Linked DNA regions of Homo sapiens: region 2 is linked to region 1. The links come from fine-mapping of genetic effects on gene expression. Tissue or cell type: whole blood. Region 1 holds a variant in brackets; the other region holds the start of a gene. All regions are shown on one strand. Distances are between the middles of the regions.

The links. PIP is the estimated chance that this variant, and not a neighbour inherited with it, causes the effect.
Region 2: NEMF starts here. The variant in region 1 is fine-mapped to the expression of NEMF in whole blood (INTERVAL, PIP above 0.99).

The regions. Positions count from the first base shown.
Region 1 is chr14:49,881,985-49,892,486 of GRCh38, forward strand. No RefSeq gene overlaps it. Among named protein-coding and RNA genes, the nearest start is that of ARF6, 5.8 kb to the right of the region's middle. RefSeq lists an enhancer at 707-1,290. The variant C/T (reference allele first, on the strand shown) is at 4,685.
Region 2 is chr14:49,847,419-49,856,669 of GRCh38, forward strand. NEMF (nuclear export mediator factor) reads right to left here and starts at 5,370. Exons shown (of 33, transcript NM_004713.6): 1 at 5,277-5,370; 2 at 4,389-4,457; 3 at 4,145-4,247. The coding sequence starts at 5,335. It also overlaps RN7SL3. RefSeq lists an enhancer at 5,377-5,616 and a silencer at 6,420-6,479.

The sequences.
Region 1 (10,502 bases):
CTGTTTATAATTTGTATCTTATTATCATAAAGATAATCTGTTCTGTCAGTCTTTTTTTTTTTTTTTTTTTTTTTGAGATGGAGCTTCGCTCTTTTGCCCAGGCTGGAGTGCAATGGCGCGATCTTGGCTCACCACAACCTCCGCCTCCCAGGTTCAAGTCATTCTCTTGCCTCAGCCTCTTGTGTAGCTGGGATTACAGGCATGTGCCACCACACGTGGCTAATTTTGTATTTTTAGTAGAGACGGGGTTTCTCCATATTGGTCAGGCTGGTCTCGAACTCCCGACCTCAGGTGATCTGCCCGCCTCGGCCTCCCAAAGTGTTGGGATTACAGCCGTGAGCTACTGTGCCCTTCTGTCAGTCTTTTTGAGACAGGGTCTTGCTCTGTTACCCAGGCTGGAGTGCCAGGGCACAATCATGGCTCACTGCAGCCTCGAACTCCAGGCTCAAGTGATCCTCCACCTCACCCTTCCAAGTAGTTGGTACCACGGGTGTGCACCACCATGACCAGCTAATTTTATTTTATTTTACTTTTGTAGATGCGGAGGGTGGGAGGGTGGTCTCCCTGTGGTGTTCAAGTGAAACCCCATTGCAAAATTGGAACTGACGCAGGGAAAGAGATCTGAACCTAACCAACTCCAACTTGCTTCTAATCTCCTATCTGTCCTTGTTCATTCCTGGGCATAGGCCAAAGTAACTTTGGGAGGCACTTAGTTTTTAGTTTATGGTTTAAAGCAAAGATGATAACAGCCCTTTCCCAAAACAAACCCCTTTCTTGCCTGGAGACTAGGCTGCCTTTGTGGGACTAACAAACTAGCCAAAAGATTAAAAATTATGGTTTAGGAGTCATGCAGCTGGAGGCGATAAGATTCTGACCCTTCCCAAATTGCTCCTGGGGCTAACATCACTATTGTAAAGATTCAGATCAGTGCTTGAGATATTTTGCAAACTCTGAACTTGATGGATCAACTGGCACCACCCAGACTGATACATTGACTCATGTGATCTTGTTGCCCCCACCCAGGAACTGACTCAGCGCAAGAGGAAAGCTTCAACTCCCTTCCATTTCGTCTCCTACTTGACCAATCAGCACTCTTGACTCACTGGCTGCCCCCTCACCCACCAAGTTGTCCTTAAAAACTCCGATCCTGGGCTCGGTGGGGTGGCTCACGTCTGTAATCCCAGCACTTTGGGAGGCAGAGGCGGGCGGATCAATTTGAGACCAGCCTGGCCAACATGGCAAAAACCCATCTCTACTAAAAATACAAAAATTAGTCTGGCGTGATGGCACGCCTGTAATCCCAGTTACTCGAGAGGCTGAGGCAGGAGAATCGCTTGCCTCCCTTGCTGGGAGGCTGAGGTTGCAGTGAGATTGCACCACTGCACTCCAGCCTGGGCAACAGAGTGAGACTACCTCTCAAAAAAAACGAAAAACAAAACAACAAAAATCCTACTCTGATCCCTGAATGCTCCGGGAGACTGATTCGAATAACAATAAAACTCTGGTCTCCAGCACAGCTGGCTCTGCATGAATAACTTTCTCTATTGCCATTCCCCTGTCTTGATAAATCGGCTCTGCCTAAACAGTGGGCAAGGTGAACCCATTGGGCAGTTACACAGGCTGGTCTCTAACTCCTGGACTCAAGCAATCCTTCGCCTCGGGCTCTCAAAGTATTGGGATTACAGACATGAGGCTCTGTGCCCAACCTGTTTTGTCAATCTTATGATCTCTATTTTAACATCAATGATGGTCAGTTGTGTCTAAACTGCAACAGGGAGGGGGTACAAAGAGGCATGTCTGACCTCCTATCTCGTTATAGCTGGGAACTCAGTTTTTAAGGTTTCTTTGGGGTCCTCTTGGCCAAGAGGTGGTTCATTCAGTCAGTTGCAGGGCTTAGGATTTCATTTTTAGTTAACGTGATGAATAACAAAAGATGTGCCCCTCACATCTATCAGTCAGGAAATTCCAAGGGTCTCAGAAGTTTTGTGCAAGAAACTGGGACCAAAAATCAAATATAGATCTCTTATTAATATATCACAATATCAGAAGGAAGCAGTGGTGGGAGAGGGAACTGGACTCCTTATAGTGAAAATCCTGACTTTCCAGTAGGCCTCCTCTGATCCACCCCAGCAGGGCAGGGTACGATGCCTCCTACTGCCAAAGGGAAGTAGAAATCCAGGTTCCCCAAGTGATCTCCATTGACACCAAGAATTTAGGTGGGGCTCATTATCACCTGGTGGGGATGGACAACCCTGTTCCCTACTCAACTTGGTGAGGGGACAAGAGATTGGGGCACCTCATTAAGAGCCTGGCAAGTGCGGATGCCTAGGCTCTAAGAAAAGAAAGACAGCTACGAACAGTCTGAGCTCTGTGAGGTATGTAAAACTTATCAGGCCCAGAGACATGAGTATGGGCCTTCAGGCACCTCCCCACTCATGTCTGGGGGCATTTTTTTTTTTGAGTGTCGCTCAGGCTGGAGAGCAGTGGCACAATATCTGTTCACTGCAGCCTCAACTTCCTGGGCTCAAGCAGTCCTCCCACTTTAGCCTCCTGAGGAGCTGGGACTACAGGCATGCGCCACCACACCCAGCTAAATTTTTGTATTTTGTAAAGATGGGGTTTCACCATGTTGCCCAAGTCTCGAACTCCTGAGCTCAACTGAGCCACCACTCCAGGCTGGCGGCAATTGCTCCTGACTAGTATTTTGTTCCGGACTAGCTGCCTCACCCATTGTCTTCATGTTCCTGGAACTTGTGATACAACGAACAATGTATAGCCAATCAATAGCTTCAGTTATTTTAATGTAAATTCTTGGTAAACAATCTAGGAACTGCCTATTTCCTTCAGAAACACACTTGTGGCCGGGCACGGTGGCTCATGCCTGTAATCCCAGCGCTTTGGGAGGCCGAGGTAGGTGGATCGCTGGAGATCCGGAGTTTGAGACCAGTCTGGCCAACATAGTGAAACTCCATCTCAACTAAAAATACAAAAAAAAGTAGCCAGGTGTGGTGGCGCATGCCTGTAGTCTCAGCTACTCGGCAGGCTGAGGCAGGAGGCAGAGGTTGCAGTGGGCCGAGATCCAGCCACTGCACTCCAGCCTGAGCGACAGAGTGAGACTCCGTCTCAGGAAAAAAAAAAAAAAAAAAGAAAAGAAAGAAAGAAAGAGAAACACATTTGTAATGACTGCTAATTAGAGTATATTCAGAGCAACTTGGATCTACACTCCTCGTTTGCAGTCCTCAGACTTGGCCCAAGTACACTCTCTACTTATATTAAGATTGCCTCAGTTTTTTTCCCTTTAGGTTGATAGCTCTCCACCTGGCCTTTATTACCATTGGTGGAAGTGGGGCTACAGATTTTTCTTTGGTGTTTGGCTGACATGGTTATTTTCTAAAAGTTTTCTGCCTTTCTAGGCTTTCTTCTGGTCCTTTGGCTGTCTGTCTTCCTGCACTTTCCTCATCATTTGGCTAAAGAGAGAAGGCTTCTCTTGGAGCTTCTTTCATATTTCAAGGTTTCAACTTCTTAAGTTCCAGGTTTGGAAGATATAAGGACAAAAAAGCAGCAAGAAACTTACCACTAAGTCATTCCTTGGGTTTCCAGGTCGCTAGCCAGCCTGCCTCCTTCTCGCCAGCTGTCAAAGTCTTCTTATGCTTCTTGTATTTGTAATGCCTCGGGTTTTTAGTTGTACTTAGAAAAAGAATTGGAAAAAGTATGCCTACTCTATCTCCCTGGAAGTGAATTCTATTGTATTAATTTTATGCTTACCTTTTGTTTAGGGCAAATGATACTGGCTGAAAAACTCCAGTGACTCTGATTTTTTTTTTCTATTCCCACATTAAGACAACTATTGTTATGGTATGAGGAATACATTAAATTATTCTAAGAGCTCTATAAAGCAATTCAAGCACAGGTCAAAAGGCCAGGTCAGGCTGGGAGTGGTGGCTCACACTTGTAATCCCCCTGTAATCCTAGCAATTTGGGAGGCCAAGGTGGGTGGATTGCTTGAGCTCAGGAGTTCCAGACCAGCCTGGGCAACATGGTGAAACCCCGTCTCTGCAAAAAACACAAAGATTAGCCAGATGTGGCAGCTCACTTCTGTACTCCAAGCTACTTGGGAGGCTAAAGTGGGAGGACCTCTTCAGCTTTTGAGCCTGGGAAGCAGAGGCTGCAGTGAGCCGACTGTGCCACTGCACTCCAGCCGGGATGACACAGCCAGACACTGTCTCAAAAAAAAAAAAAAAAAAATCCAGGACTTCAGTGCTCTTTATAAACTGAATTAGATTTATCAATAGCCCACCCTACCCCTTTAATTCTAATGGTGGTCATATACATATAATTCTCTTGAAGCATTAACATCTATGACTTTGATGCATTTACTTTAAAATTTTGTTTTGCTTGCACATTGCTTTTTCTTGACATGTTTTGTAAAACTATTGCCTTTGTTTATATGTAACAGAAGCCAATTAGAGCCTGCTTTAGCAAAAAGAAAAGTAATGTGGCCGGGCACGGTGGCCCATGCCTGTAATCCTAGCACTTCGGGAGGCAGAGGTGGGTAGATCACCTGAGGGCAGGAATTCAAGACCAACCTGGCCAATATGACAAAAACCCATCTCTACTGAAAATACAAAAATTAGCCGGGCGTGGTGGCACGCGTCTATAGTCCCAGCTATTCGGGAGGCTGAGG[C/T]ACAAGAATCTCTTGAACCACGAGAATCGCTTGAACCACAAGAATCGCTTGAACCACGGGAGGCGGAAGTTGCAGTGGAGCCAAGATCGCTCCACTGCACTCCAATTGGGCCACAAAGTGAGACTGTCTCAAAAAACAAAACAAAACAAAAAAAAACCCCAAAACTAGGGTGTTTCATGAAACTCAGTGATTGGTACGCAGACAGACCCTAGTAAGGGCCTGGAGTGTCAGGAATAGTCTCTGCTTCATCTCTGCTTTCTCCACACATCTGCTTCTTTCTTTCTCCCTGAAAACTAACCTCTGTCTGCCTCCCAGTACTCAAAACAGGAATATGGCTGTGACACAGTCTCTAGTTAGTAAGATGCATCCTCTGGGAAAAGATGGACTGGCACAGTATTTCTTCAGATCTGATTCTAAATTCTTAGGAATAAAAATCCAGGCTGGGCATGGTGGCTCACACCTGTAATCCCAGCACTTTGGGAGGCCAACGCAGGTGGATCACTGGAGGCCAGGAGTTCGAGACCATCCTGGCTAACATGGTGAAACCCCATCTTTACCAAAATTACAAAAATTAGCCAGGCGTGGTGGCACGTGCCTGTAATCCCACCTACTCGGGAGGTTGAGGCATGAGAATTGCTCGAATCCAGGAGGTGGAGGCTGCAGTGAGCCGAGATTGTGCCATTGCACTCCAGCCTGGGCAACAGAGTAAGACCCTGTCTCAAAAAAAAAAAAATCCAAATAGCCAATTAGGATAATGAGTCTACCTGTGGTCCAGTTGGTATGGCCAGAGATGTACATGCTGAGGAATCCCACAGAAAATCCAGAACTGCTAGGAGTCTACTCCTGTATTTCTGTGGATGGGGGCGGCAGTTTCTAAAGACATCCTAAGAGTGTTAAACACATCCTAAGAGTGTTAAACACATTGAGTAACTTGCTCTACTCCTAGAATCTTTGATATACTGTTAAAGATTTATCCACATCAAAATTGTTATGATGTTCCAGGTCAGCCTTCTAACATAACTATGTAAATACACTGAATTCACGATTTGTTTTTCCTGTAATGTTAAAAAGATATAATAAGCAGCAGAAAGACCCATTTTTACATTTGGAAATGAAACTGCTTCAAAGGCTCTAGACTTTCCTTTTCTGGCATTAATTCAGTTAATGTGGAAAGTCGGCACACAGGGTAGTTGACCTTCATCCCATAGTGAGACAGCGGAGGAACTCTTGCCCTAATTCACCGGAGAGGGGCATAGCCCCCAATGACCCAGGTTTAAGAAACTGTAATGTTACCTCTGAAGCCAGTCTTTTTTTTTTTGAGATGGAGTCTCACTCTGTCGCCCAGGCTGGAGCGGGGTGCAGTGGCGTGATTTCAGCTCACTGCAATCTCCACCTCCTGGGTTCAAGCGATTCTCCTGCCTCAGCCTCCTGTGTAGCTGGGATTACAGGCACGCACCACCACACCCAGCTAATTTTTGTATTTTTAGTAGAGACAGGGTTTCACCATGTTGGCCAGGCTGGTCTGAAACTCCTGACCTCAGGTGATCCACCTGCCATGGCCTCCAAAGTGCTGGGATTACAGGTGTGAGCCACCACACCTGGCCTGAAGCCAGTCTTTAACTCAGCAGGTTATGCTATTTGACTATTATTTGTGGACATATAATCGATTTTATTTTTATTTTTGAGACAGAGTCTCTTTCTAACTCTACTGGAAGATAAATCTTTCTTACTTGAAATGGAAACAAACTCATAAATTGTGTCCGGCTTAATCCTTGTAAAATTGTTGTAACATTTACCTAGGATTTTACAACCATTTCCACACTCATAAATCTTGGTCATTGTGCTCAAAACTGTATCTTAAAGTAGGAGCTACTACAGACAATTATATGCTGATGGTTCAAAGGTTCTGAACAGCATAGAAGCTGCTCCATTGTTTGTTCTTGGTATATATACTATGTGTGTTTATAAAGTAAAATTTAAAAAGAGGATATGGAGCAGGAAATTTCACATGAACCTACCTGGTTATAATTTTCTAAGGAATTTTACCTTTCCAACCTAAATCTGGGTTTTGGATTAAGATATCGTTTACAACACTGCCAAGCTCTACTTTTCAATACAACTCTCTTCTTTTCTTTCCTTCCTTTTCTTCCTTTCTTCTTCTTTTTTTCTCTTCCCCATTCATTTTTTATTAATTCATTTATTCTCTCTTTGAAACAGCACTATGTAGCATCTAAAGTTATTATTATTTTTGAGACGGAGTTTCGCTCTTGTTGCCCAGGGTGGAGTGCAGTGGTGTGATCTCGGCTCACTGCAACCTCCGCCTCCTGGGTTCCAGTGATTCTCCTGCCTCAGCCTCATGAGTAGCTGGGATTACAGGCATGTGCCACCACGCCCAGCTAATTTTGTATTTTTAGGAGAGATGGGGTTCCTGTACGTTGGTCAGGATGGTCTCGAACTCCCGACCTCAGGTGATCTGCCCACCTCGGCCTCCCAAAGTGCTGGGATTAGAGGAGTGAGCCACCACGCCTGGCCTGTTATTATTTTTTGAGATGGAGTCTCGGTCTGTCACCCAGGTTGGAGTGCAATGGCGCGATCTCGGCTCACTGCAAGCTCCGCCTCCCGGGTTCACGACATTCTCCTGCCTCAGCCTCCCGAGTAGCTGGGATTACAGGAGCCTGCAACCACGCCCAGCTAATTTCTTTTTTTTTTTTTTTTGGTATTTTTAGTAGAGATGGGGTTTCACCGTGTTAGCCAGGATGGTCTCGATCTCCTGACTTCGTGATCCGCCCACCTTGGCCTCCCAAAGTGTTGGGATTACAGGCGTGAGCCACCGCACCCGGCTCTGTTTTTATTTATTTATATTTATTTGTTTTTGAGACCTAATTAAAAAATTTTTTTTGGCAGAGATTGGGTCTCGCTATGTTGCCCAGGCTGACCTTGAACTGCTGGCCTCAAGGGATCCTCCTGCCTCAGCCTCATGCATAGCTGGGATTACAGACATGAATCACTATGCCTGGCAGGATTAGCAATTTTTCTAAAGATACACTTTCTTATAACTTTATTTACACTTTATTTCTACTGCTAATAGATTTCCCAGGATTTATCCCTTCTTTAAAATAGTGTTCAATTCTGGGTAAGTCTGACCTAAGGGTTTCAAATGATAAAAGGGATAAAATCATCATCAAACAAGTGCATGGTCAGACCACCTTTGTCATGTGGTCAGAGTCATCCTTGGTACTTGATGGGATAAAAAGAAATACCTGACAGGGTCTTATGAAATGAGCGATTTTTAAGAGTTATAAGAATTCAGAAATTAGGGTAAACAGTGTGTGGTACTATTGTTAGAGAATACATTAATTCCAATTTAAAAACAGAGGGCCGGGCGCGGTGGCTCACGCCTGTGATCCCAGCACTTTGGGAGGCCAAGGCAGGTGGATCACGAGATCAGGAGTTCAAGACCAGCGTGGCCAATATGGTGAAACCCTGTCTCTACTAAAAATACAAAAATTAGCTGGGCTTGGTGGCACATGCCTGTAGTCCCAGCTGCTCAGGAGGCTGAAGCAGGATAATCACGTGAGCCCGGGAGATGGAGGTTGCAGTGGGTCCAGATTGCGCCACTGAACTCCAGCCTGGGCGACCAAGAAAGACTCCGTCTCAAAGAAAAACAACAACAAAAAAAATTAGGTCTAAGCCATTTTTTACAAGTAAACATATTTCTTATGAGATAGATATAGTATTGGCTGGGTACAGTGGCTTAGGCCTGTAATTCCAGCACTTTCGGAGGCTGAAGCAGGAGGACTGCTTGAGTCCAGGAGTTTGAGACCAGCCTGGGTTACAGTGAAGTCCTGTGTCTACAAAAAATAATGATAAATAAATGAATAAAAATTATAGTATTTTATTTATACTGTTTTAGTCAGGAATATCATAAACATAAGTGGTTGTTGAAGAGATTAAAAATTATGAAATGGCATTCTCTAGGGAAGCCTGGTTTGCGTGTAAATTCCAGAAATCTCTTCATTTACAGGCTTTGAGTCAAAAAGTAGAGAAGATTTTTCTATACTTAGCTGTTGGAGCATTCATCTGTTTAAAATTTAAGACATAACCCAGGCCAGGCCTGGTGGCTCACGCTTCTAATCCCAGCGCTTTGGGAGGCCAAGGCCTGCCCATCACTTGAGGCTTGAGGTTGAGTTCGAGACCAGCCTGGCCAATACGGTGAAACCCCGTCTCTACTAAAAATACAAAAATTGGCCCGGCGTGGTGGTGCATGTCTGTAGTCTCAGGTACTCGGGAGGCTGAGGCAGGAGAATTGCTTGAACTGGGAGGCAGAGGTTGCAGTGAGTCGAGACCGAGACCGAGCCACTGCACTTCAACCTGGGCAACACAGCAAGGCTCTGTCTCAAAAACAAAAAACAAAAACACAAAACACAAAAACATAACCCAGGTGTCTAGATAAAAATTAAAAAAGGGCTAGGCGCGGTGGCTCTTGCCTGTAATGCCAGCACTTTGGGAGGCCGAGGCGGGCAGATCACTTGGGGCCAGGAGTTCCAGACCAGTCTGGCCAACATGGCAAAACCTGTCTCTACAAAAAATAGAGAAATTAGTCAGGCGTGGTGGCGCACGCCTTTAGTCCCAGATACTGGTGAGGCTGAGGTGGGAGGATCTCTTGAGCCTAGGAGGCTGAAGCTGCAGTGAGCTGACATCGCACCACTGCACTGCAGCCTTGGTGACAGAGCGAGACCTTGTCCCAAAAATAGAGAGGTGGGGTTGGGGATGACACTTGAACCCCAATCTTCAGACTCCTAAGCTTTTCAGTTTTATGACAGTGCTTCATCTTAAGGTAAATGGAAAGTAAATGAAATAATTGTTAGAATATTAATGTTTAATAAGTTTATTTCCGACTGAAATGACGTTTATAAGGTTATCATATAACCTATCTACCATTATCTAATATTTTAAATTTGTTTAATAAAAACAGTATGTTACCATATGCTGTTTATAGCATCTTGCTTTTTAAACAAAGATACCCATTTCCTGTTTTTCTCCCCTTGATATTTGAAGGTTTCACGTTATTTTAAGTCTAATTTTATCATTAACCATTTGATACAAAAATGTGTCCTTGGCAGGGCGCAGTGGCTCACGCCTGTAATCCCAGCATTTTGGGGGGCCGAGGCGGGTGGATCACCTGAGGTCAGGACTTCGAGACCAGCCTGGCCAACATGGTGAAACCCCGTCTCTACTAAAAATACAAAAATTAGCCGGGCGTGGTGGTGGGCGACCTAATTCCAGCTGCTCCGGAGGCTAAGGCAGAACTGCTTGAACCCAGGATGAGGAGGCTGCAGTGAGCCGAGATTGTGCAACTGGACTCCAGCCTGGGCGACAGAGTGAGACCCCGTCTCAAGAAACAAACAAAAACCAAAAAACCAAAAATGTGCCCTGAAGTCTTCCACATTGTATTATTTAAGCCTCACGTGAGTTAGCAAGGTCAGTTTACACGAGATAAACTTAGTAAGGTTAAGTGCCCAGATCCAGGCCATACAAGCGGTCGTTCTATATTCTAAATTCTATGCTTCTTAAAGTTAAGAATGGGTAGTAGTTAAGAAGCTACTACTAACAGTATGAGATAAAATGATATTTTAAAGATGAACAGATGTCGCATTCTAAAAAGGTGAAAACGCGGCAAGGCACAGGAACTCTTCATAATACTGCAGTTTTTAAGAAACATGGGCTGGTCTTGACGAGACCTATAGGCAGACAGGGCTCAAACATTCAAAAGAGCTGCAGAGTAAACTCAACTCCGGGAAAGCGCTGCACTGACTGG
Region 2 (9,251 bases), 35 kb before region 1:
GTCTCGAACTCCTGAGCTCAGGCAATCTGCCCACCTCGGCCTCCCAAAGTGTTAGGATTACAGGCGTGAGCCACCACACCCAGTCCCTTTATTTTTTTTAAGTCTCTTTGATGACACTTCTAAGTATGCCAAATTTCCCTTTTGTATGCTTCATTTATGTTCAAAATTAATTAATTGTTTCCACTAATCTTCTACTTCTAATACATATCAACTATGGACCATGAGCTTATGGCTTATGGTATCCTGTAAATAGTCCACCACCTTATATCCAGTTACCCCTACCAATTCTTTTTTTTTTTTTTTTTTTTTTTTTTTTCTTTAAGAGAGTCTTTGCCAGGAGCGGTGGCTCAGGCCTGTAATCCCAACACTTTGGGAGGCCGAGGTAGGTGGATCACTTGAGGTCAGGAGTTCAAGACCAGCCTGGCCAATATGGTGAAACCCCATCTCTACTAAAAATACAAAAATTAGCTGGGCGTGCTGGCGCATGCCTGTAATCCCAGCTACTCAGGAGGCTGAGGCAAAAGAATCGCTTGAACCCAAGAGGCGGAGGTTACAGTGAGCCGAGATGACACTACTGCAATCCAGCCTGGGCAACAGAGCAAGACTCTGTCTCAAAAAAAAAAAAAAAAAAGAAAGGGACAGAGTCTCTCTGTTGCCCAGGCAAGGCTCAAACTCCTGGACTCAAGCAATCTCCCACCTTAGCCTCCCAAGTAGCTAGGATTACAAGTGCCCTGCCACTGTGCCCAGCTTATTCCTACAAACTTTACTAATATAACCCAAAGAGAATTTTCCTGGTATCGTCTCTAAGCTTTTGATAACCTATTTCAATCCAATGTAATAACTCTCATTCTTTATTAAATCCCCTTCCTCCTATCCCTGGCCATAAGGTTCTTTTTCTTATTAACAATTAAAATAATATTAGTATATCAAATCCAAATACAATTTACTTGGCAATACCTACTCTTTTAGATTACATGTACCGTCTTTTTGTACAAATATTGAAGTATGACATGGACTGGTAACAAGACTACTCTGTAGCCTCTAAAATATCTTACAATTGTTTCTAATTTTTTAATATAAAAGACCCTTTAGTTAAGACCAATAAGAAAGAATGCTTTCTTCAAGACTCAAATACGGTCTGGGTATGGCAGCTCACGCCTGTAATCCCAGCACTCTGGGAGGCCGAGGCAGGCGGATCACAACGTCAGGAGTTCAAGACCAGCCTGGCCAACATGGTGAAACCCCATCTCTACTAAAAATACAAAAATTAGCCAGGCATGGTGGCGTGTGCCTGTAATCCCAGCTACTTGGGAGGCTGAGACACGAGAATCACTTGAACCCAGGAGACTGAAGTTGCAGTGAGCCAAGACTGCGCCACTGCCCTCCAGCCTGGTGACAGAGCAAGACTCCGTCTCAAAAAAAAAAAAAAAAAAAAAGACTTAAATACGAAACAAATTTTACAGAAGTTAATCTAAGACCACCTTCAAAAAAAAGACAAAAAATCCACTCCTTGACAAAGGTTGAAAAAAAACAACAATAAACACATAAATTCATTATTAAAATTAATGCTAACATTTTCATAACTAAGAAGAGTTCTTCTCCAGACCTTATAGCCCAAATTGACTGAAATTCGCATTTTATATACTCACATAGGCAGAATAACTTCCTAGGATAAACAATCTGCTCCTCCTTAACTCAGTAGTTTTAAGAATGACCTATACTGATTTGATTAAACAGTAACCTACATGTAGGGCTATCTTTAAATCCCTAGAGGAAAATCACAATCAGTTCTTCCAGAGTCCCTGAGTAATAATTTTATTCAAGAAAAATAAAGACAAAAGGCATCATTGAAAGGACAGAAGTTCACACAAAGGAATAGTAAAAAGGGGATTATTTATCATGGAGAGTACAGATGGACACATAGTACATATTTAAAGCTTGTTTCATTTCCCTATCAACAGCTTGGTGAAATCAACCTGCTGCTGTGTGCCACAAAGCTATAGCTGTCATCCCCAAATGTGAATACTGGAACAACCACTGTGATTTATCACATAATAGACATAACTCTGCCTGTGCCATGCAACAGTAACAGCTCTTTGATTTATAAAGTGCTTAACATTGTCTGCTCCATTGAGGAAATCTTTCTATACATTTAGATTGACACGTACACCTAACCCATAGAATTCTAAGTATTTTTTAAAGTGACTGACCTATTAGTGTAGTCTGATTTGGAGATGTTTACACAATCCCAGTGTCCTATTTCATTGGCCTGTTACCTCATCCATAAAACTGAAATTGTATTTGTTCTTCACAGTCCACTGAGTTGCTAAACAACTTAAATGAAATACATATTATTCATCTGCCTTAAAAAGTGCTACACAACAGGTAGCATTATTATTGTCATTATTATTAAGGACAGGCCCCAAAAGAACTATTTTGGGTTACTATTAAATAAATTAAACTTTAATAATCTGAGAATTTTGTGAAAGCCCTTGTGATATGGAAACACTTACCTAATTTGTAATCCAAAACAGACTCTAAATTGCTGGGGGGTAAAGCTCTTCTCTGTAAAGCCTCTAATGAAATAACTCAATGCCATAACAGATACATTGCCAAAGTAAGGAGCGGAGCAGGAAGGAAATGAACATGTATGGAGTTCTAATATGTGTCAGGTATTGTTTCAGGTGCCTTTCTTTTTTTTTTAGATGGAGTCTCGCTCTGTCGCCCAGGCTGGAGTGAAACAGTGCGAACTCAGCTGACTGCAATCTCTATCTCCCAGGTTCAAGTGGTTCTCCTGCCCCATCCTCCCAAGTAGCTGGAATTACAGGTGTGTGCCACCACGCCTGGCTAGTAGAGACAGGGTTTCACCATGTTGGCTGGGCTGGCCTTGAACTTCTGACCTCAAGTGATCCACCTGCCTCAGCCTCCCAAAGTGTTGGAATTACAGGCATGAGCCACCGCACCTGGTCTGTTTTAGGTGTTTTATATATCATTTCAATTAATCCAATAATTTCATGAAGGAGGTACTATCCACATTTTACATTTAAAGAAACTAAATTCCAAGAGGTTAAGTAACTTTTCCAGGTTATAAAATTACTTTCTGACAAAGCTATTAATTCAAAGTTAAGTATATGTGACTCGAAAGTCTCGTGTACCACATGAATTTTCAATCTATATGTTACATCAATAAAAGAATGGGTAGCATGCCCACCCATGTAAAAATCTGTTTTAATAGTAAAAACAAAACAGAAAAATAAAAAGACTTAGTAACATATTAATGTCAGTGAGTATTCCAAAAAAAAAAAAATACTGACTGGGTACAGAGGAATACGACTCACAAAAGTGAGCTCTGGAAGATAAGACTAGGAAAAAAAGGTGGGGCAGGGAGGAGAAAGAACACAGAAAGCCAAGAATGTTAGGCTATAGAATATGGATTTAGAAATCAGGAAACCATAAAAGGTGAGGTAACTAATGAAAATTATACTTTAAAAAAATTAATGTTGGGCCAGGCGCGGTGGCTCATGCCTGTAATCCCAGCACTTCAGGAGGCTGAGGCTGGCGGATCACCTGAGGTCACGCATTTGAGATCAGACTGGCCAACATGGTGAAACCCCATCTCTACTAAAAATAGAGAAATTAGCCGGGTCTGGTGGCACACGCCTGTAATCCCAGCTACTGAGGAGGCTGAGGCAAGAGAATCACTTGAACCTGGGAGGCAGAGGTTGCAGTGAGCCAAGACTGTGCCACTGCACTCCAGCCTGGGTGACAGAGCGAGACTCCTTCTCAAAAACGAACAAAAAAACAAACAAACAAAAACAAAAAAATTAACGTTGGTCTAATTTAGAATTGTTTTGATGCAGAGAAGTGAATTACAGTTAAGGAACTGTAAGGCTGAATGTGATAAAAGCTTGAACTCTAATAGTGACTGTGGAAACAGAAGATCTGGAGCAGAACAGGATGTGAAAGGTAATGGGGAGAAATCAATTAATAAATATTCACTTTATTCAACCCATTATCTGTCAACCACTCCCTTTACCTTCATTTTATCTGCACTTTATTCGTAACAGTGAAGGAAACCCCAATTAAAAACTTAATTGTTAGTGAGCAATCTCTTAAAATTTAGCTTCAAGCGTAACAAGTTTACCTTCATGGCAAAACTAGACGGCATCATATTCTTAGGCCACTCAAATTCTGTTGTATGAATTCGTATGCCAGATTCAAGTAAAAGTGTAGCTTTAAAGTCCGGTCTGTAGAAGAAAAAAGTCGAATTTTTCTTTAGGGTATATGCCAAAGCTAATTGCTAAACAGGCTTAAAATGTAGGTTAAAAAAAATCAGTAATCTCATACTTAATTGTCAAAGAGAAAATAAGCCTATAAAATGTTCTTACTTTTGAAGACGAATAAGGTATGTCTTATTATCCACATCATAAACATTGTTTACTCTCATTCCTAGCAAGCTGCAAAGATAAAGGAAACATGTAACATGTTACACTATTGTCTGAAACATAAAACTACACATAATTTAATAAAAGCTTCGAAAGAGCGGATCTCAGTCTCTAAGGATATGGAGTCAGCCGAGGAGCAGAGTCTGAAAGCCATTTGGAGATTCAGTTCAAAACTTAAGAGTAACGATTTAAAAACAGAAGTGGTCTATCAGCTCTAGGAACAACACACTATAGCTTGCGTCTTCCAAATGACCCAATTTTGGGGGAGAAATACAGTAAAATATAATCCAATTAATTTATTACAAGGGAGAAAAAAAAAAGATAAAAGAGGGCCCCGAAAATATGACAAAGCTCACAGGGCTGAATAATAGAATCCAGACTAGAATCCAGATCTCAGTCCAAATCTGCTCAATCCAGCTAAAACCGCGATGCTCTCTCTCTCTCTGGGGTGAGGGGAGGGAGGTGTTCAAGAAACCAAGCCCCCAGTCTGGAAACCTCTGAAGCAAACGACCACTCTGGCGTCTCGTGTTTTAACAAACGTTTCCTGCCCAACCCGGACAACCCAGGCCAACAATGCAAGAGCTTCGCGCTAGCGGGGCAAGCCAGAGAGCTGGGAGGACGCGGGGGATGGGGCACGAGGTGCCTGGGACCCCCAGGGGTATCCTAAGGGTCACGGGAAAGACACCACACGCCTGCCCACTCAGGCCTAGGCAGGTCCATAGACGCACTAGGAAATAAGGAAACATATCAAGCTGGTCTGTTTGCGCCATGGGACTCCGGCCTCTGCCTCCTGCACTCCCCACACGAGCCTCGTCACTTAGGGTACTGTACCTAGCATTCAGCTCCGCGAGTACGGCGCGGAGGTCAATGGTGCTAAAGCGGCTCTTCATGGCGAGGCCCGAGGGTCACTACCGCAAGTTCCTCTACTGCCCGGCCGGACTCGACGCCACTTCTCCTCCGCGCAGGCGCACTTGGCGGAGCTCTACGGCCGCGCAGAAGACCCAATATTCCTCGAGGCGAACGTATTTGTGTCGCTTTTCTGAAGATTTCGATTGTCAAGTTGCAGCTGACTCTCTTCATTGTACCAAAATTCAAATTCGAATAAAGATTCAAACTGTTCTCTTGAAACTGCATTCCTTCCTGGAACCCTTACGGACCAGTCTGGTTACCGTGCCCCATTGTGTCTTGGGCTCAAGTCAGCCTTCATAGTGACCCCTGCTGGTCGAAACAATTTTCGAGATGATTATCAGGAGTATTTCCCCACAGGGGGGCCGTAGGGCTCAGTGTAGAAGAGCAAGGACCCCTTTCTGCGCGCTTACTTTGACATAAGATTTTGAAATGTAACGAAACGGAACTGCTTCGGTCCTTCTAAGATTATCCTCAACGATCGAGGCGAACTCTCAAAACGGAGTTCCTATTTTGATGGGTCCTGCTCTCGGAAGGAGCATTCTGCAATTGATTACAGGATTCTCATCGAACCTCGGTCTTGGTACCCCTGAGACTCACCGCAGTACCTGGTGTACAATCGGTGCTCCATAAACACTTGGCAGCATGAATGTGCAAGTGTTTAGCTAGATAATGGTGAAATAAGATAAAAATAAAAACAAGAAGATTCCCAATGGGGGTGGGGTGGGAGGGGGGATTCACAGTGTAGTGAGGAAAATAGTCCTGTAAGAATGTAAATTCTGCATTTCTTTTGTCTTAGGATAGATGCATGGGAAGAAAGGCTACTTTATAAGGTGAGAACTCAAAAGAGGCAGGGTCTCACTATGTTGCCCAGGCTGGAGTGCAGTGGCTATTCACAGGCGCAATCCCACTACTGATCAGCACGGGAGTTTTGACCTGCTCCGTTTCCGACCTGGGCCGGTTCACCCCTCCTTAGGCAACCTGGTGGTCCCCCGCTCCCGGGAGGTCACCATATTGATGCCGAACTCAGTGCGGACACCCGATCGGCATAGCGCACTACAGCCCAGAACTCCTGAACTCAAGGGATCCTCCAGCCTCAGCCTCCCGAGTAGCTGGGACTACAGGCACGCGCCACCGCGCCCGGCGCTCGGCGTCGCTGCAAAAGAGCTGCTAGAGGCTTGCAGGCTACACATGGTAGCAACCAGAATTCCTACCACCAGAAGGCGACTCTAAACAGAAAGGGCGCCGCTGCTATTTCAGAACTGGTACCAGTAGATGCAAAAATGGCTATAGCACATACTGCACAGCATTACTGTCATACGGTACAGTAAACCATACAGAATGGCCCAAAATATGAAAGCATTGGGGAGAAGGTGGAGAACAGGGAACTTTTGTATGCTGTTGATGGGAATGTAAATTAGTAGAGCCATTGTGCAAAACAGTATAAAGGCTCCTCACAAAATTAAGAATAGAATTACCATGTGATCTAGCAACAACATCACTATCCTGAAGATATATGTTCATGTTCATTGCAGCATTATTCACAATAGCCAAGATATAGGGATAATCTACTTTTCATCAATGGATGAACGGATAATGAGTGCAAATATATATGTACACACACACACACACACACATACATACATACAGTGGAATATTATTCAGCTTTCAAAAAAGAAATAAATCTTGCTGTTTGCAACTGGCATGGATTTAACAACATGGATGAACCTGGAGGACATTATGCTAAGTGAAATAAGCCAGACATAAAAAGACAAATACTGCATGATCTCACTTATACGTGGAATCTAGAAGTTTCTCATAGAAACAGACAGCAGAAATGTGGTTTCCAGGACTTGGGATGTAGGGGAAATGGGAAGATACTGGTCAAAATGCACAAACTTTCGGTTGTAAGTAGAGTAAGTTATGGAGACTTAATGTACAACATGCTGATTATAGTTCATAGTAATGTATTGTATGCTTGAAATTTGCATGGGAACAGAAAACCAAATACCGTATGTTCTCACTTATAAATGGGAGCTGAATGATGAGAACACATGGACCCATGGAGGGGAACAGCACACACTGGCGCTTATCAGAGGGTGGAGAATGGGAGGAGGGAGAGGGTCAGCAAAAATAACTAATGGGTACTAGGTTTAATACCTGGGTGATGAAATAACCTGTAAAACAAACCCCATGACACAAATTTACCTATATAACAAACCTGCACATATACCCCATGAACTTAAAATAAAAGTTAAATTAAAATAAAAAACAGAAATTTGCTAAGAAAGTGGATATCAAATACACACATACAAAGTGTGAGGTTATGGATGTGTTAATTGGCTTGATTGTAGTAATCATCTCACAGTGTATACATACATCAAAACATCACATGGCTGGGCCGGGTTGCTCACACCTATAATTCCAACACCTTGGGAGGCCAAGGCTGGCAGATGGCCTGAGCCCAGAAGACCAGCCCGGACAACATAGTGAGGCCCCCTCACCAATCTCTACAAAAAAATAAAAAAATTAGCCAGGTGTGATGGCATGTACCTATGGTCCCAGCTACATGGGAGGCTGAGGCAGGAGGATCCCTTCAGCCCAGGAGGTCAAGGCATGGTGGCCATAATTGTGCCACCACACTCCAGCAGGAGCTTCAGAGTAACACCCTGTCTAATAAAAAAAAAAAAAAAAAAAAAAAAAAAAAATTGGCCGGCTGCAGTGGCTCACGCCTGTAATCCCAGCACTTTGGGAGGCCAAGGTGGGTGTATAACCTGAGGTTGGGAGTTCAAGATCAGCCTGGTCAACATGCTGAAACCCTGTCTCTACTAAAAATACAAAAATTAGCCGGGCGTGGTGGCAGGCATCTGTAATCCCAGCTACTTGGGAGGCTAAGGCAGGAGAATCACTTGAACCCAGGAGGTGGAGGTTGCAAAGAGCCGAGACTGTGCCATTGTACTCTAGCCTGGGCAACAAGAGGGAAACCCTGTCTCAAAAAATATATATATATATAATATTTATATATATAGATATATGTATAATATATTTATATAATATGTATAATATATTTATATAATATTTATATAATATGTATAATATATTTATATAATATATAACATATTTATATATATATACACACCTCAAATATATGCAAATTTTATTTGTTCCCATAATTCATTTTACACTACTATAACAGAACACCACAAACTAAGTAATTTATAAAGAACATAAATTTAATGCCTCACAGTCCTGGAGACTAGGAAGTCCAAGATCAAAGGACTGGCATCTTGAAAGGGCTTTCTTGGTGTTACATCCCATGGTGGAAGAGCAACGAGAGAATGAGAGAGACAAGAGGACCAAACTCATCCTTTTATAAGGAAACCATTCCCATTTCTTTTTTCAGTAGCCCGAAACTGAGCCCCAGGCACTGTCTTATATAAAATATTTTAGTCTCTTATAAGCTTAGCATTAACCATCACTATGTTTGGCCTCATCAATAGATGTCTGGAATCTAGAATGAGAGATGGGATTTTTCAGTCCTATGCTTAGAGAGTAAATCAGAGATAGAATACATTGTTGTGTACTGGGGAATCATATTTTCCCAGAAAGACATACAAATGGAACAAACAGAATAGTGGAATTCAATTGAAACCATGTAATACAAAAAATAGTTGTGGTTCTTCTGGGTAAAAATAATGCTAAATTTGTTATTTATAACCCCAAGGGTTAAAGAAAGTACTAATGAAAAAATTTTAGGGCAATGGATTAAATCTTAACATAAGGAAGAACTTTCCGGTAGTAAAGACCGTTCAAATATTATTTAGAGATATATTCAGGCACTAAAAACCATTAAGAATAACAAGAGAATGCCACGAAGTCAGAATAGTGGTTATTTCTAAG